Linked DNA regions of Homo sapiens. The protein of the gene in region 1 interacts with the protein of each later gene in a biochemical or structural test. Each region holds a gene or a part of one and is shown in the gene's direction. Other genes may lie near its edges.

What was found. The genes of interacting proteins can lie anywhere in the genome.
Region 2: the proteins of KLF16 (region 1) and NFIB form a complex in vitro, tested with the Homo sapiens proteins (one study listed by BioGRID).
Region 3: the proteins of KLF16 (region 1) and NFIA form a complex in vitro, tested with the Homo sapiens proteins (one study listed by BioGRID).

The regions. Positions count from the first base shown.
Region 1 is NC_000019.10:1,860,575-1,868,193, reverse strand, and holds the start of KLF16 (Krueppel-like factor 16), read left to right. Parts: upstream 1-4,614; 5' UTR 4,615-4,696; coding exon 4,697-5,153; intron 5,154-7,619. UniProt on the Homo sapiens protein: Transcription factor that binds GC and GT boxes and displaces Sp1 and Sp3 from these sequences. Modulates dopaminergic transmission in the brain.
Region 2 is NC_000009.12:14,304,139-14,311,169, reverse strand, and holds part of NFIB (nuclear factor 1 B-type), read left to right. Parts: intron 1-3,134; exon of another isoform or gene 3,135-3,247; coding exon of another isoform or gene 3,248-3,262; intron 3,263-3,649; coding exon 3,650-4,181; intron 4,182-4,324; exon of another isoform or gene 4,325-4,418; intron 4,419-5,151; coding exon of another isoform or gene 5,152-5,192; exon of another isoform or gene 5,193-5,417; intron 5,418-7,031.
Region 3 is NC_000001.11:61,379,533-61,386,563, forward strand, and holds part of NFIA (nuclear factor 1 A-type), read left to right. Parts: intron 1-3,704; coding exon 3,705-3,833; intron 3,834-7,031.

The DNA.
Region 1 (7,619 bases):
AGTTTTATTTAGAAGATGAATTTTCATACAGAAAAGCCTAAAAATGAAAGGACAAATGGCCCATCATTGCATTGCTTAGATGCCTGTTGACATTCAGAGGCATGTAGTAAATACACATGGTAAAAAAAAATGTTTGAGTACTACAGAAAAGTACTATTAAAACTATCACAAAGCAAAGACCCGACTGTCTTAAATCAAGAAGATATGGCAGTTCCAGTGCATGCGCGCACGCACACACACACACACACACACACACACACACACACGTCCTTACATATTACCCCCTCTTCTGCTGCATCTTTGTTATTTACTATTGTTTTTATTTATTTGAGAGGGAGTCTCACTGTCACTCAGGCTGGAGTGCAGTAGTACAATCTTGGCTCACTGTAACCTCCACCTCTCCAGTTCAAGCAATTCTCCTGCCTCAGCCTCCCGAGTAGCTGGGATTACAGGCGGCCCCCCACCACACCTGGCTAATTTTTGTACTGTTCGTAGAGACAGGGTTTCATCATGTCGACCAGGCTGTTCTTGAACTCCTGACCTCAGGTGATACATCTGCCTTGGCCTCCCAAAGTGCTGAGATTACAGGCATCAGCCACCACACCCAGACAATCTATCACTATTTTTAGAGACAGGATCTCGCTCTGTTGCCCAGGCTGGGGTGTATCACAGCTCTCTGCAGCCTTGACCTCGGGGCCGCAAGCAATCCTCCCGCCTCGGCCTCCCGAAGAGCTGGGACCACAGGCGTGCACTACCATGCCTGGGTAAGTTTTGAATTTGTTTTTTATGCAGACAGGGGTCTCACTATATTGCCCAGGCTGGTCTTGAACTCCTGGGCTCAAGCAGTCCTCCCATCTCAGCCCCCTAAAGTGTTGGGGTTACAGGCGTGAGTCACTGCACCCGGCCCTGCAGCCTTGTTTTTGGCCCTCACCTACCTTGGGGTATCCATGTTGTGGGTGCACCCCCGGTTATGTGACCTCTGCCCTCATCTGTCCTCTGGGAGACTGTGTTCTTTGCCCTCTATGAGGCAAGGCCCCAGTTCCTGGCTCCGTGGCCCCTCTGAGAGTCCCGTTGTGTTCTTCCTGCCCTGCTAGAGACCCACTCCCAGCAACACCTGGGTGCTGTCTGTCCCCTGCTGAGCTTTGCTCCATAGCCCTCAGGCTTGGGAGGTCCATCTTTGGGGCTGGGAGGAGCTGTCCCCCTGATCCTCTTGGGCGCTGTCAGGGAAGGGTAGAGGTGAGCCCCCATTTATAGGTGAGGAACAGGTTTGAAGAAAGAAGGGGCTGAGTTATGGATGCCCCAAAGTGTCTGCTGCCTCTTAGCTGTGAGCAGGAGCCGGCTGTTCTCGGTCCTCTCCCAGTCTTGATTTTTTCATCTGTAGAATGGGAATGACAACTCCTTTTTTTTTTTTTTTTTTTGAGACAGGGTCCCACTCTGTCACCCAGGCTGGAGTGCAGTGGTGCAGTCACAGCTCACTGCAGCCTTGACCTCCTGGGCTCAAGCGACCCTTCCACCTTAGCCTCCTGAGTAGCTGGGACTACAGGTGTGAGGCCACTGCGCCCGCTAATTTTTTTTTTTTTTGAGACAGTTTCTCTCTTGTCACCCAGGCTGGAGTGCAGTGGCACGATCTCGGCTCACTGCAACCTCCGCCTCCTGGGTTCAAGCGATTCTCCTACCCCAGCCTCCTGAGTAGCTGGGATTACAGGCATGCGCCACCAGGCCCGGCTAATTTTTTTTGTATTTTTAGTAGAGACGGGGTTTCTTCATATTGGTCAGGCTGGTCTCGAACTCTCGACCTCAGGTCATCCGCCTGCCTCGGCCTCCCAAAGTGCTGGGATTACAGGCGTGAGCCACCATGACTGGCCTCCAGCTAATTTTTTTTTTTGAGATGGAGTTTTTGCTCTTGTCGCCCAGGTTGAAGTACAATGTTCGATCTCAACTCACTGCAACCTCCACCTCCCAGATTCAAGCGATTCTCCTGCCTCAGCCTTCTGAGTAGCTGGGATTACAGGTGCCCACCACCTGGCCCGGCTAATTTTTTCTTGTATTTTTAGTAGAGACGGGATTTCACCACATTGGCCAGGCTAGTCTCGAACTCCTGACCTCAGGTGATCTGCCAGCCTTGGCCTCCCAAAGTGCTGGGATTACAGGCGTGAGCCACTGCACCCGGCCTGCAGCTCATTTTTTAATGTGGAGAGTTGGGGGTTTCATTACGTTGCCCCGGCTGGTCTTGAACTGATAGCTTCAAGTGATCCTCCTACCCTGGTCTCTCAAAGTGCTGGCATTCCAGGCGTGAGCCACCGCACCCGGTGGAGAATTTACAGGGTCATAGAGAGTAAGGAAGAGAGGACAGAGCCCTGTGCCGGGCGCTGCTGGAGGTTTGTCTGTGTTCACCGCAGGGGTCATGGGTTGCCTGAGTGTTCCTGGGGCTTAGGGGTGTGAATAGAAGCCTCATGGGTGGGGTGTGGGCTGTGTGCCCTCACCTGGGGTCTCCTGCCTGTGGAGTGGCTGGCATGACCTGCAGATGAGGCCACTCACTTGAAACCCTGATAATGGCTGGAGTGGGCAGACAATGGAGTCTCACAGTGAAGGTCCTGCCTGGGGCCATGTGGCCCACCCCTGGAGGCTGCTCACCCCTGCCCCCCATCGTTAGCCTCCCAGTTACAACTGTAAGCCCCTTGAGGGCAGGGCTGGTTGGTTCTGCTCTAAGCCCAGGAAACATCAGTGGAAGACGCATGGTTGGGTGTGGACCCTGAGGCCTCAAGACACACCTGTCCACAAGCCAATGCGGGGTTCCAGGACCCTGGGGGCTGCTGGGATGGTGGGGACCTGGGGGACCTGCCCAAGTGGCCCATCGTCCTAGAAGTTCAAAGACAACAGAGGCCCAGCAGGAGCAGGAACGCCGACCCCCAGCGCCCACCGAATGGTAGGGGTGCAGAGAGGGCTCTGGAGCCCAGGCCTAGGAGAGGGGCAAGTGTGTGCAGGGCACCCTGTACCCTCCCACACTTCGCTGAACCTCCTCTCTCTCGGCTCCGCTCTGTCCAGCCACGTAGAGTGGGCTTACTGGGGCCCAGGGAGGGCTCAGCTGGCTTAACCAAGCATGGTTGAGCCCAGGCGCAGTGCGGGCGACCCAGGGAACAGTGGTCAGCCTCAGGGCGTCAGCTGGGGTTGCAGGTGGGCGGGGGATGGGGCTAGAGAAGCCCCGAATCGGGTCAGGGCCTCTGTCCATGCCCAACCCAGAGCAGGAGGTCGCCGCAGGCCAAAGCAGCTCCGCCCCCTGGAGGCAGCTCCGGCCACTGCGCAGTCCCCGCCGCCCCGCCGGAGCTGGGAAGGGGCGGGAGCGCGGTCGCGACCGAGGGGGGCCGCCCAGTTTCTGTGCCCCCGCCGCCTTGGGCCTGCGAACTGGGCCATCCGCGTCCCTGGTGTCCCCCCTAATATTTAACAAGTTGGCCTGGACGTCCTCGCGGCCGGGAGGCCCGAATACCTGGCCTCAGTTTTCCCGTCCGAACCCCAAGAATCGATGCCTGGGAATGGAAAGAGAAGCCCCGGACCCCGGTGTCCCAGCAGGGCGGGGAACCTCTGACCCGCTCAGGCGCCCCCAGCCCAGCCCAGCCCTTTGCGTTCGGCCCCCTCTTCCCGTCCCCCTATCCCGACCCTCTGGGACCCAACCGGCCCTCCCCACCCCCAGTGGGGCGCGCTCTAGTAGCTCCGGAACTGGGTGCAAAAAGAGGAACGAACGCAGCCTTGCCCCACCCTCCCGGGCCCCGCCGCGGGCGCGGGATACCGGGTGTCTCGGCCGGGAGGCTCCGAGGGGCTCTGTGAGCGGCGAGGGGGAACCCCAGAGAAGAGGACGAGCAGATGCCTGAGTGCGGGGTCAAAGCAGGGCCCCAGGCCGGGAGAAGAGGGGGGAAGGGTCGCGCACGTGGCCTGGGGGCGGGGCCGGCCGCTTCCGCACCCCTCCAACCCCGGCCACGTGGGGATCGGAGCCCTCCTCCATCGCGAACGGGGGCGCGCCCGGGGCCAGGAGGGAAGCATCCGGGGAGGGGGCGGGCTCCCGCCGGCCGCGCGCCCCGGCGTGGGGTGGGCGCGCCAGCGAGGAGGCGGGGCGCGCTCTGGGAGGGAGGGGCGTGCCGGGATGGGGCGGGGCGCGCTCTCGGAAGGAGGGGCGTGCCGGAGAGGGGGCGGGGTCCTCGGCCTCCCGCCCCGGCTTGAGGGGGTGGTGCTCCGGGAAAGGGTACGGGGGCGCGCGCTGGAGTGGGGCGCGCCGGGAGGGGGCGGGGCTCCCGGCCTTGCACCCTAGCGCGGAGAAGGCGCGCTCCGGGCCTAAGACGCTAGGCGCTGGCGGAGGCCGGAGTGGGCGCGCCGGGGGGCGGGTTCCTCCGGCCCGAGCCCCGCCCCCGGCGGCCGCGCGCGGCTCGGAGAGTGGTGGAGGGCGCGCCGGGCGGGGGGCGTGGCTGCGGCGCCCCGAGGGGGCGTCCTCCGGGCGGGGCGGGCTGTGGCCGCCCCCGCGGGCTCCGGTGCGTCAGGACGCGTCAGGCGGGGCGGGGCAGGCCGAGCGCGGGCGTCGGCGGCGGCGCGCGCCGGGCCTCCTCCTCCTCCTCCTCCGCCTCCCGCACTCGAGCAGCCGCCGCCGGCCGGACGGACGCCGCTCCCGCCGCCTCCGCTCCGCCCGCCGCGCCGCGCGCCCTTGCTCGGCATGTCGGCGGCCGTGGCGTGCGTGGATTACTTCGCCGCCGACGTGCTCATGGCCATCTCTTCGGGCGCCGTGGTGCACCGCGGGCGGCCCGGCCCCGAGGGCGCGGGCCCCGCCGCCGGCCTGGATGTGCGCGCGGCGCGCCGCGAGGCCGCCTCACCCGGGACCCCGGGGCCACCCCCGCCGCCCCCCGCCGCTTCTGGCCCGGGCCCCGGCGCCGCCGCGGCGCCCCACCTGCTGGCCGCCAGCATCCTGGCCGACCTGCGCGGCGGACCCGGAGCCGCCCCGGGGGGCGCCTCGCCCGCCTCCTCCTCCTCAGCCGCCTCGTCCCCGTCCTCGGGCCGCGCCCCCGGCGCCGCGCCCTCCGCCGCCGCCAAGAGCCACCGCTGTCCCTTCCCGGACTGCGCCAAAGCCTACTACAAGTCCTCGCACCTAAAGTCGCACCTGCGGACGCACACAGGTGAGTGCAGCCGCGATCCCGGCCCTTGCGGGGGCGGCCGCCTGAGACCCCTCCCCCGCCAGGACCCCGAAACTGCGTGGCGCGTGGGGGGCGGGGAGGGGGGCGCGCCCGGGCCGCCGCCGCGCCGGCCGGCAGGGCGGGGCCTCGGTGGGTGGGGCGCGCGCGGGGGGCGTGGCGGCCACGCGGTCGGGCGGCGAGCGGATGGCCGCCCCGGCGGCAGTGGCGGGGGCTCCGGGGGCCCAGCGAGGTCTGCGGGCGGGATTGAGACTCCTGGGCAGACCACCTCTCTCCCTTTCTGGGCCTTGTTCCGTTTTTTTTTTTTTCTTTTGCGTTCTGGTCTGGGCGGTGGGCACCGTGGTTGGAGCATCCGGCTCTGGGGTTCTGGGTTCTCCCCCTCCCCCAGCCTCAGTTTCCTTATCTGTGAAAATGGAGGAGGAACCGCGTCGCCGCCGCCGGGGTGGCCGCGCGGATTCTCCCCAGAGGTCGGCAGAGCACCTGGCGTGGGGCCAGGATGGGGGGAGCCCGGCACGTTTTCTCTGCGTTCTCTGTATTTTAACGAGGGGGAGGGCGAGGCTAGGAGCGCGGGTTGGGGCCTGAGTCTGGGCGGGGGAACTTCATAGTATTGGAGGACCCTCGAGGGGCTCGGGTCCACACTGCTGTATTTCCCTGGCGTGTTTGTTCACCCCTACCTGGCGGGCGATTCGGGAAGGTGCGCGTAGTTGGAGCGCTTCGGCTACACCAACGCCCCTCCTAGCGCAGTCCCCGGGGCGGCGAGGGGAACCGGGAGCCTGGTGGGCCTGGCTGTATTTTTTCACTCCGTCCCCTCCTAGGGTTCCACTTTCTGGACTGGGAGTTTGGACTGGGCAACAGGGGACGGTGGGCCTTGATGGCCGGCCCTGGTTTGGGCATTAGAGGTGCTTGTCCCTTCCGGGGAGGGTGGGGGGCTGGGGGAAAGCTGTGCGGCTGCCCTTGGGCTTGGCATTCTGGCCTTGCCACCAAACAGAAGACCTCTACCCGATCTGGGTCTCAATTTTCTCATTTCTATCAAGAGTGCGATGCTGCCTCTATTTCATAGCCATAGCGGTGGCCGCTTTGGGCAGCTGGACACTCCAAGGAGGCTTGGTCCGTGGGCTCGGATTGTAGGGACACGTGGAGCAGCCGAAGGGAAGTGGGCCGTCCAGAGTGGTGGGGCTGAGATGAGCAGGGGCCGCGAATGCCTTGCGGAAGAATTGAGGGTCCATCTTTGGGGTATGGGGAGCCGCGCTGGGACGCCTGAGGGTGGAGAGCAGGAGGGCGGGTGGGGGCGGTGGTGTGTAGCCTGCCGGCCGCCCCCTCTCTGTTCTGCACTCTTTTCACCCCTCGCTCAGTCCCTGTCCTGGTCCCAGGGGCCTGGAGGCTCTGCCCACCTTGAGACACAGACGGGAACCGAGGGCGTCAAGACAGGACTTGGGTGGGGTCTGCGTTTTCTGCGAGGAGCCACACATCCTCGGCGGAGGGGTCCCAGGGTGTTACCTCTTTTTGAGGGCAATGGGGTCCGTGTATCTCCGCGGGGAGGGACATTGGGGGTCTGTGAAGATGGCGAGGCAGCGTTGGGAACAGAAAGGGAGGTGCCTCTCCGGGCGGTGGGCAGGGGTCCAGGAGTGCCCTGGCTTTTTGGGGGTAAGTTGGGCGATCTGAACAGACGGGGCTGAAGTGGGAGCCTGTTGGGAAAGCGACTCCCACCTGTCTACCCAGGTCATTCTTTTCTTGCCAGATGGCGTGGCCTGAGAGCTCCATTTGGGTTTTCTGAGTTTCTGGGTTAAGTGGACGGGATGGCCACCTCCCTGAGTGGCACCCAAGAGGCGCTTCCATAGGCCCCCGGGTATTGGGGCAGCGGTCCCTAAGCCAGCAGGGAGGGGAGGGATGGGTTTGGAGTCCTGGGAAGGCAGTATTGTTATCCCGGGATTGCAGTAAGAAACAGGCCTGGGGGTGCCCAGTCGGGCATCCCCAGGGGTGGATGCAGTTGTGCTGATGGCGCGCCACCGTCTACCCTGTGTGGTGGGGGAGGGCAGGGCGGATCTCCTGGCACCCTCCCCCACCCCTTGAGCCTGCTGACGTCCCATTCCAAAGCCCCCTTTACAGTAACGATTTGGGGACTGGGAGGGCAGTCCCAGGCCCAGGCACCTTGGATTCGGTTTCCAAAGGGTTTTGGATACTTGTGGCTTTCCAGGCTCCTCTTCCGGGCCTCCCCAGCCCCCAGGACCACCAAGGGGTCTGTGTAAACGGCCTCTTTTAGTGGAAGGTGGTCTGGTTTTTCAGCCCCCGGAGGAGGGAGGGAATGGCTGCCGTTAAGCTGGTTTTGGGGGACAGGAAGGCCATGCGTTTTTTTGGGAGGGAGCCCCATTGCAGGGCTGTCCCTGAATGGAGTGGAGGCCGGGAAAGATCCGCAGACGAACCCGAGTCACCGGTGGCTGCAGGGCTGTCCCG
Region 2 (7,031 bases), on another chromosome or scaffold:
TAGCAAAATAGTATGCTACAAAATCAGCATATCAATAACCAATATTTATACACCAGTATAAATCAGATATAAAGGAAAAATTAAGAACTATCATATGATTTAATATATGTTTAAAAATAATGTAAACCATTAATAATATAACTTTCAATTGGCATGATGGCATTAAATATATTTTTCTTTCGTTGCTTTTAAGTTCTTTAGGTACATTTTTTGCATGATTTGTTGTTATATAGCAATGCGCCAAGAGCACCTAGTATTTACTCTTCTACCTCTATGTTGGTCTAAATTATCCATCCCTTTCATGGAAACGGAAGAAAAATAAATATGCCTAGTGGAATTAAGACTCTTTATTTTTATATCTGAAATTGGTAACTTTGTTATTTACTTTGTCAATTTAGTTCAACTAAAGGAAGTTTTAAAAGAGAATTACTGAACATCAATGCATTTTACTAAAAATTCTGAAAGAGCAAAGTTGCCTATTACCTTTGTATACAGTTGTTTGGTTTTAAATCACTTATATGTTTTGCTTTTTTTAAAGAATTTATGATTGCTTAATGCTATTGTAATAATCCACTACTAGTTAGGATATTTGAAAACCTTAATCACCTTTTAAAAAAATATTTTTGTATCAGGACAGTTATTATGTTCCATATTCATGTCACTCATAATCTTTAAGACTCTAGTGTTACTCAGCATTAGGAAACAGTCACACTTGGGAGATGACATTTAGGCATGTTAATACAGAAATATATGCGACTTACAGCAAACCTCAATTTACAGTCATTTTTGGAGGATATGTCCCCTTGTCAAATAAGTGCTTCACTTGAATTCACATAATAGTGAAACCCTGAACGATATCAATAAGGCAAACTGGCAGCCTGAGAAAGTTTGCTACTTTTATTTCTCAAAAAAAAGAGCATGTTTTAAAACAATATTGGCAGCATTGACAGCAAAGTCAAAGGAACGTTTAAAAACTGTGTGCATTTGCTAAGAATTTTCAAATTCAACCTTCAAATTTGAATTTTGGTTGTTTAAAATAACTCATTAAAATTTTGAGCTTTCTTGTGTGATAGATTATATTTATAATCAAATATTGAAACTCAAATTTAATCAAAACTGTGTTTGATGTCTTTATAAGAAAATGAAATGTCACTGAACATAGTACTTAAGGTGTAAGTACTTACGTGTTACCACATGGCTTAATATTTATAAAATAATATTGCATTTTAAAAAGCATGGCAAGGGTAAAATGAGTGAGACAGAGCCCACCCACTCCACCTCATGTGCTCTTTACATTCTCAAGGTTTTAGTTTTGTGAGTGCATATATGTGTGTTTTTTAGTCATATCAATAAATCGTAGTAAAAGATTATAGGAAGTGAGTTTCCAAAGCACATTTAAGTCCACATTTCCTTGAGCAGGCTTTCCTTTTGCATATATTCCTAAAGGGGATAAACAAAGTTTTTGTAGTTACAGTGAAAGCTAAAAGCATGGCATCAGAAAGTGTATGGAGATAGGGAGGTCTTATCATGGGATGTGGTTGCTGTGAGCAGGGCTGCCTTCCCACACAAAGAACAGATTGTGGTTTAACTCTTTCCATGGCCTAGTTTAATGTGCTCGCATAGTAACTGAATTGTTCAAATCTCTGCTGGAAACTACTGATCGGTTTAATGATTTCCTCTATGGCATTTGGGTATGCCTCATGCTGTGATGTAATCATCAGCATTCTGTATTGTTATAAAATTTTGATTCATACTTATTCTGGTGAAGGAACACTTACAGCAATGTTAGAACACTTGATAACTACATTATTGATTGGATGGGACATGTACTCCTTCCATATCTGAAGTGCAAACAGCTAACATGTTGCAGTCTGTAGCATTAAAACTTCGAATTTCTTCTTCAAAATGTATTCATATCTATATTGGATTTTTGACACCTTCTTTGTTAAAGAGTCATTAGTTGTACTTTCATCATATTTACCTAATGGAATTAATTAGTCAGTCTGCTGTTAAATAGAATTTATTCCACGTAGTTCAGGGTGATTAACATGAGTATGTAAATTCTAACTTGGGATACAATCAGAGAGTTATTTTGTCGTTGGGCTGACAGTATAGTCAATATGATCAGAAAAGTGGTGGTGGTGGAAGTTCTCATTTGCTTCAAATCTTGGCTTATTGCGTACATGCGGTGTGCATGTACAGGACGTTAAGCTCTTTCTCTTTGAACAGTAATAGGCCTAAGCTTATAAGACAGGTTTTACCTAAATCAGGAAGTAACGAAACTGACTGCACTGGGAAGTAACTTGAAATATCTGTAGGTAAAGATTATCCACCATTCCTCACTGATCCCCTCCCTTAAAAAAAGGGCTTGGATGAAACAGGCAGGAAAAATGCAGGAGCCTAAAGGTAAACTACTTAATTCAAAAGATTGGTACTCTATAATCTATGTATCTGCAAATTCACATGCACATGCATATATGCACCCACAGTTCTAACTGATAATTCATCTACATGGCAAATGAATTGTATAGATTCCACAAAAGCAGTAACTGACCAGCAGTGTCACCCCACCACAGCATGCAGAGACACAAAGAATGTAAAGTTGGTGCCAAGTTGCCATTTTTCATTGTTCACCTCAGATTGATTTTTAAGAGGTTTAGAATAATTGCTATACTCATGTGATCGGTGAACAAATTAACGGACTCTGTGGGGCTGCATATTCTATAGGGAAGCTGATGGAAGAACATTCATGTAATTTTTGTTTTCCAGTTTGAAAACTTCTATTTAAAAATGCAAGAGTGTGTGTGAGAAAGCAGGAGAGTGCAAGTGTGTGTGTGTGTGTGTTGGGAGCTGGCGTTGGTAGTGTGGGGAGAGAATGCACTGCTCAAAGTATGGAAACCTTCTGTTCAGGACACTGATACGACGAGCTGTGTCCTTTGCCCACTTTCCCTCACTGTATACCGGTTTCTCTAGTTACCACTTTTGGAATGGTGCTGTTTCAGTGTTGGAATGTTGGACGTTTGATAAGAAAATGGATCAAGTTTAATGGCGCATGCTCTTTGTGCCACCAGCAGCCTCTTGCTGAGAGCATGCTCCAAAAGCGGGAACTGTGTGGCATTACACTGAGCATCTATATGCTTTGTGTTTCTGTGCCACAGAGAAGAGAAATGAACTGTGGCATCGCTCCTGCCTTCTGAACAGCTCTACTCCGATTAAAAAAAAAAAATCTCACTGTGTTCTTTGTAAAATGGTACTGCATAGTGTTAGTTGGTCAATCAAATATTGAAATACTATATTAGGTGCCAAGCACCTTAGTTAGTTGCCTATATTTTAAAGAATGTAGAATGCATGGCATTGGGGTGGAAACAAGGGGGATGGGGCCAGAGTGTAATACAAAATATAAACCTTATTTCCTTTATAGGAGGGAGAATTGACCTGTGAATTTTGGTGGAAAGGGGACAGCTGGGCATACTTTACTTTCTTCTTGTCCTGTTATTTTGATAATTTTAAATAAGAAAGGAATGTTATTTTCATGTATAACTTTTTGTACTGAATTGGAAACGGGTTGTGGTCTTCTTTTCTTATTTTTTGAGCTTTTAAAATTAAACTGACTATGCACATCTTTTCCTCACCCCTCTGTCTTCCACAGGATGAATTTCACCCATTCATCGAGGCACTTCTTCCACATGTCCGTGCAATTGCCTATACTTGGTTCAACCTGCAGGCTCGAAAACGCAAGTACTTTAAAAAGCATGAGAAGCGAATGTCAAAGGATGAAGAAAGAGCAGTCAAAGATGAGCTTCTCAGTGAAAAGCCTGAAATCAAACAGAAGTGGGCATCCAGGCTCCTTGCCAAACTGCGCAAAGATATTCGCCAGGAGTATCGAGAGGACTTTGTGCTCACCGTGACTGGCAAGAAGCACCCGTGCTGTGTCTTATCCAATCCCGACCAGAAGGGTAAGATTAGGAGAATCGACTGCCTGCGACAGGCAGACAAAGTCTGGCGTCTGGATCTAGTCATGGTGATCCTGTTCAAAGGCATCCCCTTGGAAAGTACCGATGGAGAGCGGCTCATGAAATCCCCACATTGCACAAACCCAGCACTTTGTGTCCAGCCACATCATATCACAGTATCAGTTAAGGAGCTTGATTTGTTTTTGGCATACTACGTGCAGGAGCAAGGTAGGAGCAGATTGTTCTTTTTTCTAGCACGGCAAACACCGCCTACAAATCTCCGTAGACAGAGTATCTGGCTTGAGTTAGATGGTCCTCAAGGCCCCTAGATATCCTCCACCCTCTCTGGGTATAGTAGGGTGTCCGCTTTCACTCACATGTCCGCTGCCATGTGCGAGCCATGTAAATAGACACAGAGCTTTCGTACCTGGATAGGCTTGGATATTTAAGAAAGACCACAAAGAGGTGCGTTTTCAAGTATCTTTAAAATAATACTGTTTTTCAAAGACATAGGGTAGTCTAACAAATATAGTTCATTACACTATACTTTCTGTCGTAGGCTACATTTTTGCATCTAATCTAGTAATCTTTTCCTGATTTGAAAATATAACTTTATTTATGAATAGCCAAACCATCCTAGATAATTTTTGTATTAACCTTATTAATTAATGAGGTAGAGGGACTTTGTTTATGAACTTAGTGGTATCGCACTGAAAATAGAACTAATGTTTACTATTACAAAATGCTTAAGATAGATAATATCAAAAGTATATCTTACGTAGACCTAGATTTACTTAATTTTAATATTTCTATCATCACTTTTGATTGTGCAATATTCACTGTCGATTAAATGGAATTGAGTTATTATTTAAATTATTTATAGTATGTTCCCAGAGTTACTTGGGAACACTTAATAATGTTAGTTTACTTGTATGTAAATTCATAAAACTTACCGAGGAGGAAAGTCGCAGCGCTGCTTACAGAACAAAAAACAGAAAGTGGACTGGTTACACTGGTTTAAGATAAATCTTAAAAAGAATACAGAAACTGCATACCATACCTATTATTTAAAATACCTGAGAAGGAGAATGGTATACATTTTACCTAAATAATTAAAAAAGATGATGTTATTACTGAATATTTGAGTTAATGAAATGTTTATTATTTTTATTTTTCTTAATATATTTTCCTTAAGTAGGTAAGAATTTCTTTTCTTCAAATAAATGCATCAAGATATAGATGTCCTTGCATTACCAACAATCCATAGTAAAACAATCATTTTACAAAGCCGCATACCAAAAGTAGACTGAAGTTTGAGCTGTCACAGATGGTAGGTCATTTCCAAACTTGGCCTGGTGGGAGGAAAAATGGCCTGCAGATAGCCAGGTGACAGACTGTTACCTGAGGTTTGTTATATAAATGTGGGACTTAATAAACTGCTATGAGCTTTATTATTCAAAAAAATCAAAATTACTTTTTTGACTCTGAATTCTAGGCCCTCACTATGTGCTTTTTGTCTTGATTTTCTTGTAGCTTTGGAGATAGGCTTAAGTGTCATTTTAGAATTTTTAGTCTGATTTTAAATAATGGTGTTGGACATTGCACTTTTAGAAATATTACCTTTTCCTGAAAAAATGAAACATTGCATTTAATATTTCCATGCATTTAAGAATTACAGTCCAAATAATGATGGTTTGGGGAAAATAATATTTTTGTCCCATGTGTCCTAAAATAAAACTCAGTAACACATGACACTTATTTGATTGACAGATGTCTAGGAGGTGACACTTTAAGGTGGGCTGTATATATGTGTTGGATTGACTATAAATGTGTTGTAACTGTGTTGTGAAAGTCAAGGATGGAAGTAAAGTTTCAAAAAGTGGGTCATGTAACTTTTTAGTGCAGGGAGGGAAGATTTGCAACCACTTCACTACTGCTCACATTTTAAGTTGCTTGAAGGCTAGGTTTTGAGGTGTGCCTGCCTGCATGCACATTTACTCCTGGGGAAGGCAGCCAGCTCTCTTAGTTTTGATGAACTGACAATAAAGATTTGTAGAGATAGATTGAAAAAAGAAAAAAAACGCATAAATGCCTTCCATGTTGCACCACTGGTCATGATAACTATAAAGTTTTAAGCAACTCTTAAGAGACCATGGTTTTAGATAAAACATTGATTTTGTTGTTGGTTCAACAATCTCTATTGTAAGAACTTTTCATTATTTTATCTTGTGTATATAACTTGTATCCTCTGCTACCTGCCAGTGCATCATCTTCTCTTAACATCTGTTGGTTCTTCCTTTGAAAAACTCACGTCAGGATGCTTTTGTGTTTTCCCCTTTTCAAAATTTATATATTCTTCTTTGTCAAGTGTAGGTTAATTATGTCATTTTATAGTGCAATTGATTAAAGAAGGCAGATTTTAAAAGATAATTCTCCGGTCAGTTAGAGGGCTGCATATCGCGAGTGATGACTTTTTATTTGTCTTCTAAGTACATGATAACTCACCTAAGTCTGTTTTATAAATCAGGAAAAGAAGTATAAAGGAAAACACGAAAGAAAAATCAGAAAAGAGAAATGTAATGTTTGCAGCAGAAAGAGCAACAAAATTACGTTTCCCCCTTTTTCTCTCTCCCCACTTCTAAATGACTGGGAGAAAAACATGAGAAAGAACAGAGAGAATGCCAAAGATGGTTGCCACTGGCACCAGGATTGGCATCAGACCCTCTTTGTTTAGCTCAGGATGCCTGTGATTTGTTAGTTGGCATCCGCATTGCAGTGTGGAGTGATGTTACAATATATTGACAATTTCCAGATCTAGAAATGTCAATAGTCCTCTTGGTTATTTATACAAGATCACACACTGCATCTCTTCTGGAAGACGAAATAAAGACCAACATGTACTAAAGTTTCATTGTTGACCAACTTCCTATGCTTTTCTTTTTTCCCTCTTTCTCTTTTGGTTCAACCCACACTTTTTTTCCTTCTTCATGCCCAGCAGCCTCATCTTTCTGAAATGTGGGAAGAGTTACCAGAGCTTTGACACAAGCTATAGTGCTACATCTGCATCTGATATGGTTT
Region 3 (7,031 bases), on another chromosome or scaffold:
GAGTAGCTGGGACTACAGGCACATGTCACCATGCCCAGCTAAGTTTTGTATTTTTAGTAGAGATGCGGTTTCACCATGTTGGCCAGGATGGTCTCGATCTCTTGACCTTGTGATCTGCCCACCTCAGCCTCCCAAAGTGCTGGGATTACAGGCATGAGCCACCGTGCCTGGCCTCAGCTAACTTTTAAAAATTAATTTTTTGTAGAGATAAGGTCTCACTATATTGTCCAGGCTGCTCTCGAACTCCTGGCCTGAAGCAATCCTCCTGTCTCAGCCTCCCACAGTGCTGAGATTATAGACATGAGCCACCAGCCCAGCCTGACTACCACAAATACCAATGATGAATTTGAAGGAATCTTTGTGAATAGTGCATTTGACCTGTATTTTCAAGGTTTTCTTGTTGAACTTTGCACTTATAAGTGCCTCCAGAGATGAAAGCCACTACATGACTAGAATCCCATATATGTTTGCCCTTGTCTACTGAACACAATTTGGAATGACTCATATAGCTTAGAAAAAAATGGCAGACTAGAGGGAAATTGAAAATTCAAAAATTCTGGATGTTTAGAAAACCAGTGACAAGCCACAGGCCTTCTTGACATGTTTCTCCAATTCTATTTACTCTCATTGGGTTTTTTTATACCAATCAAAAGGATGAAATGCCCCATTGAAACAAAACATTATGCTAGATTTCTGCTTCTCATTCTACAAAAGTCTTTATTTTTCTGCATTGAACTTTGAAGTAACATTTCATTTCCTCCAGAAAAAGAGTAGGATTACTTCATCCGTAGTCTTTTTTTAAAAATCTGGTACTTCTAGAAAATACATTGAAATTAAAGTTTTAATGCATTGAAAGAAAGCCAATCAGTCATTAATCCATACAGTAATTTTGTAACAGTTGTGCATAAATAATTGGCAAAAGAGATTTTAAAAAGGAGTTTATTTTTAAAGTAATGTACAGAACCAAATTTGATTTCAAAAATAAAAGCCAACATTAATGTTTTCTAGCTTTTAACAGAAAGCAGTTTACTAGCATTTTGGAATTTCATCTGGTCAATTAAATATACAAAACAAATTAACCAAAACATACATTATGTATGTAGAGAAAATATTAAAGTATATAATAAGGAAATGTGCTCAATACGAACTCTTTAAAAATTGAAAACACAAAGTAATTTTGAGATTCATGACAGCCTTAGGGTTCATATTACTTGACTGTGATAAATTTAGAAGATTATACATAGTTTGGCTGGTTGTTCCTGCATGCTGACGGTATTTCTTCCGTCTTTAACCCTTGCAAAGAAGATTTAAATTTTGCTATTTTTGAACTTGTTTACCAACTTGGTCATTCTTGATACTTGTTATTGCCCAAATTTTACTTGTAATTCCTTTTAGAAGCATAAATAGTGGATTTCAATCATGTCAATATTTCTGCAGTATTTAGAATGGCATGAATTAGAAAACATGAATTTTTCAAAGAAATCATAACTTTTTCTTGAGTCCAGCCATTTGCTATCATCAATAAGATTAGTTAGGATACTGGATTTCATCAGTGATTCCATTATCTGAAAAAAAAAAAAAAATCTGCCACCTTTAAAGTTTTGATTTTTGTTTTAATTATCTGTTCTGCTTCTGTTTTATGACATGTAGTTCAGGCATTGGACTAAATTTAAATCAGTGGAATGGTTGGCAGCCTATAAATTGGTCTACACAAAAAGGTTTAAATGAGTTGGGAGATTTGTTTACATTTTGCTAGCTTTTTATTTCTTTCATTTTTTTTATTTGAAATCTCCTCCTTAGTGGAATTACATGATGATAACCTTAGGTTAGGTTATCTTACAGTGAATGTTCACCCAAAATCTCAGTGCATCCTACATTAGAACTTTGGTATGGTGTGACTGGTTACTGATTCAGCAAGCAACAAATATAACTAAAGTCACTTAATTACTTCATTTTTAATTCAAATCACATGGATGTTGATCTAGAAAGGATCTGATTCAAATTGTCAAATTAGTATGAAATCACATACCACTCTATGTTGTACTTATATCTGACTATGCAAATGTGTTTACCAATTTTCAATTTTTCTTTCTTGGGGTGAAAATTCTAAGCTTTGCTATGTTTAAGCATCTATTCATGAAGCTACAGATAAAGCTGAGACCTGCACAAGTAGTTTAAATATCTTTTCAGACCATTTGGGTGTTTCAGACCCTTGGAGGTCTTGGACATAGAGGGGAACAAAGCAGACAAGGACTCTGTCCTTATACAGTCTGAGTCACACTCAAAGGTCATGTTGTAGAATTGCATTAAGGAAATCTGTGATCAGAAATAACAGGGACATATTTAGATACACGCAAAACTAGCTAAATTTCTGGAAAGATCTATACCTATAAAGTGCTTGGCACAGTACATGGTACTCCATAACAGTTACATGTTAATATCATTATGATTTTTATTACTTTTCCAGTTCATCCAAATAATTCTCTGGTCATGGGCAGAACACAGCACATGTAAACATGTATAAGTAAAATGGAATTTGGTTCTTTTAACATCAGTGCAGACCAGTTTTGTGCTACAACCTTAAGAGAGCCCAAATTTGTCCCCTGATGCGGAGACTAGGAGTCATTTCTTTTATTTTTATATCCAAATTTTCATTGTTTTAATTGGCACCCTATCAAACTGATAGATGCCTCCAGTTGGGTATGTCAGCGTGGTTGCCGAGAACATTACAAATCCAGTAATTACAAGGAACTGTTTCTCCATTATTTTCTTCCCAAAGCATTTTCTATGCTGGAAATGCTGTGAAAACTTTAGACACAATAATAAAAGTACTATTTTTAAAAACAAGCTTTTATTGTATTAACATGAAAGCAATATATGTTCATCATAGAAAAGACAGGTAAGCAAAACAAAGGCAATGAAAATCACCCAAATTCAATACAGAGAGAGAACTACCATTATAGTTTATGCATATTGCCTTCCAGTTCTTTCTCTGTGCATAGAAATAGCCTTTTCAATGGTGTCATAGTATAACATCCTATTTTGTAATTGCCTTTTTCAATTAACATTATATTATAAATGTTTTGCCACATCATTACTCTTTTACAGTATTGCTTACATTGGTTATACCATACTTATTTAACCAGTCCCCAATTGTAGGGCATTTAAGATTTTTTTACTTTTCTTTTTTCTTTTTTTCTATTCTAAAGAATTCATTGAATGAACAACTAAGTTGCCATTGTTGAGGGTATTCTTATGTTAAAACAGCCAAATTATTTAAAATATGGAGAAAGTGATTTGGTGTCAAAGCAAGGTAACCAACAAGATGAAACGATTGCATGTGAAGTCTTCATAAGCATACATGGTTTCCTTTTTGGGAGTCACAGAGGTCACAGACACAAGCAGCAACTTTTAGGAAACACTGGAAAAGTTGAACCCTGTATTATTATTGAAGACCAATAACCCAAAAATGGACTGTGATTAATTAGAATAAATTGAAATCAAATACAGACCGACTTATCAGGGGACTATTCTGTCACCTCTTTGTTTCTGTGACAAATGCAAAGCAATTCACAACATCTTTTTCATTCACAGGTGGATTTCTCTTTTTGTTTGTTTTTAATTCTTTAAATGTTATCTTTTAGGTTGCACAAATCATTGTTCCATGAATTAAAGTGTACTTACCAGTTGATCCTTCTTGCCAGGAATGCCATCTCCAACCACACTGAAGAAGTCGGAGAAGTCTGGTTTCAGCAGCCCCTCCCCTTCACAGACCTCCTCCCTGGGAACGGCGTTCACACAGCATCACCGACCTGTCATTACAGGACCCAGAGGTGAGCTGCTCCACAGGCACCCTTGGTTGTGCTTATATCATGGCCTTTGGACCCAAGTAGCAAAATGAGAAACAATGAGGACTCCCCCTGAACACTCGTGAGGCAGTGAGTGTTCCAATTTCTTACCCTTGGGGGCAGCCTTGGAATTTTAGAGACCAAAGAGATTTGGCATCACATTTTTTGTCCTTTCCTAAGGCAAAAAGAGACCAAATCTGTTTTTTGTTGGCCAGTGAGATTTTTGCAGAAAGATGGGAAGTAACTTGAATTGAACCAAAATCAAATCTGTTCTACAAGTTGTGTGTGTGTGTGTGTGAGAGAGAGAGACAGAATGTGTGTGTGTGTGCGCACATGCGCGTGCACACATGCATGCATTGGGTGAGTATATTTCCATGTGGTCAATTACCTGTTTTCAAGTAGTAGCTTTTTCTCATCCCTGCTGACTCTCTTTCCATAAAACCTGATTTCAATATGTGGCATTTTGTGTTGAGGTTGTTTGCATCAGGGTGTTGACGAGCAGTCTTCATTCACTCCTTTTGAAGTGGTAGATAGTTTGTCTGGTTTTCATTGCAATGTTTTCATTATTTTTGTCTCATATGCTTTTAAGTTTATTATTAAAATGTGTCCACGAGAAATATGATTTGTATTTCGCATTAAAGACAAGCCTTAAGCCTCAAGAGAATGTCAGCAAATCACTTAACTTGATCTTATTGCAAGATAAAAATATTTATTATTTTGTTTATGAAACTCCCACAGTAGAAGTATGAATAATTGTAGCCATGTTTGCTTTCCTTTATCAGATTTTCTTTTAGGTAGGTCTGTGACCTACCAGCTGGTTTCATAAAACATCCTAGAAAATTATGATCTCTTGTCTGCTTTGACATATACCTGGGGAAACTGATGTTTCTTGCATTAATCTCAATGTTAGCCCCACCAATCTGAATCCCTTTATGAATGTGCTCTGTGTGCATCTCAGGGAAATGTGGCAGGTAAGAGGGCTGTCCGGTGCACACATGGGAGTCATATTGAAGAAAGTAAGCATTTTGACCACTGTGGGAATGAAACTTACTTGTTTCATCTTTAAACATCTTGTGATCATTGGTAGAACTTTCTCAAGATCCCTTCTTTCATTTGTGTATTATGTGTGGTATAATCAGAGAGGCTTACTATCGATATATAATTTGAAAACCTGCATCAGAATTAGATTATAAGGTCCCAGAATGAGGCTTATTAAATAGTATTAAGATATTATCCTCATAGTTAACACTCATTGAGCATATAAACTGTAGTGGGGGATCAGAGATATGAAGCCCTTTTAGTCAGAATATTTATGGCCTGAAGGAGATGAGGCATGTGTTGTTTTTCATCTGTTTGGGGTCAAGTTAACATATTCTAAATGCTAACTGAATGGTAAAAGTTCCTGCAGGAGCTCAGTATTGGGGGGACCGTGGAGGTTCATTCACTCTTTAAACAAGGATTTACTGAGTGCCTCTATAGACACTGGGACCAGTGGTTCCTGTCCTCATAGAGCATGTTATCTACTGCAGAAGAGAGGCACACAAGGAAATAAGCAAGTAAAAGATGATGGGCCGGGCACAGTGGCTCACGCCTGTAATCCTAGCACTTTCTGAGGCCAAGGCGGGCAGATCACTTGAGCTCAGGAATTCAAGATCAGCCTGGCCAACATGGTGAAACCCCATCTCTACTAAAAATACAAAAAAAAATTAGCCAGGTGTGGTGGCACATGCCTGTAAATCCCAGCTACCTGTGAGGCTGAGGCAGGAGAATCACTTGAACCCAGGAGGCAGAGGCTGCAGTGAGCCAAGATGGTGCCACTGCACTCCAGCCTGGGCAACAGAGCAAGACTCCATCTCAAAAAAAAAAGAGACTTCAAAGTATAAATAACATTGAAGTCAAATCTTAAAAGATGCTTAGATAAATGGAGGGCCATCCTAAGCAAAGGAAAGATTTGTGGTGTAGTAAGTTAGTAAGAACTGAGAAGAACAGTATGCCAGCAATCAGGAGAGCTGGGTAGGCTCCCTCTTTTCCTTCCCACTCACCTTCTGGGTTTTTTAATGTCCTCATCAATATAGTGGGTACAATACTAATAATGACCATTTCCTCCCAATCTTGTATTCTTATACAGAAACAACAATAAAACAGTATTTGTGGAGATTCCATGAAGAGCATAATGCAATCTGTATATATTATCATTAGTCAGTAAATATTAAGAGTGTCTAATGTGTGTCTTGCCTTAAAACTGTAGTTCTAGAAATTACTGTCATGGGCACTTCCCTATGGGTACAGGTTGAGAGCTTGTTCATGCTAGATGACTAAGCACATTTTCTAAAATGACCCACGCTGGGTTGAACCAGAGTGGACCTCCTTAGCTCACAGCATAACAAGTTGCAATCTATTCATATTCATTCATAAAACTGTGTTTGAGGAAAAGAGAAAGATGCCTAGTGTAAGAATTATGGAATACCAAAGATTCTTTGTTTTCACCAGAATTCAAGATGGCTCCCAGCATCCTCGGCTCTCCTTTCTGGAAAGTCTACTCAGGTACCCGTTCTTACCGTGTCCCACCCCGCTTAGTGGTCTGGTGAAGGGAATTGGAGTAGTTGAGATGAAACTTCAGTTGCCTCTTTGTGGTAAGAATCATAAGAATTGAGATAGGCTAACGTAAGACATTTTTCTGGCTAAGACATTTTTAAAAGGTTGGAATTCAGCCTCATTATTTATTTGCTGTGGGTACTGTAATTTCCTTCATTTCTCTCTGAACTAGTTGGAAAGCTAATGCTTGGAATGATACCACATTTGGGAGTAAGACGTGGTGTTTTAGGAAGATGAGGCCAAAATTGAGGAGGAAGAGTATAGCTGCAAGAGTCAGTGTGGAATCGATGTCACATGTGCGCATAAAGGAGATTTCAACCTCTGACACTCCTTGTATTGGGCAAAGTTGCCACAACCCAAAATAGTAAATTATTAGATAATCCAGAGAATCAAACTTTAAAAGGATCTTGAAGAAAAGAAAAGAATGTCCTTTATCAGGTCCCCAGGGCATGGGGCAGGGATCACGGAGGCCATTGACTGCTCTCTGGTTAGCACTAGGTTGTGAGGCTTCTGCTGCCTTCCCTAGCATTTATCACGGGAATGCTTCAACTAGACTAGCACCAGTTAGTAAGCAATAACTGTCCAACA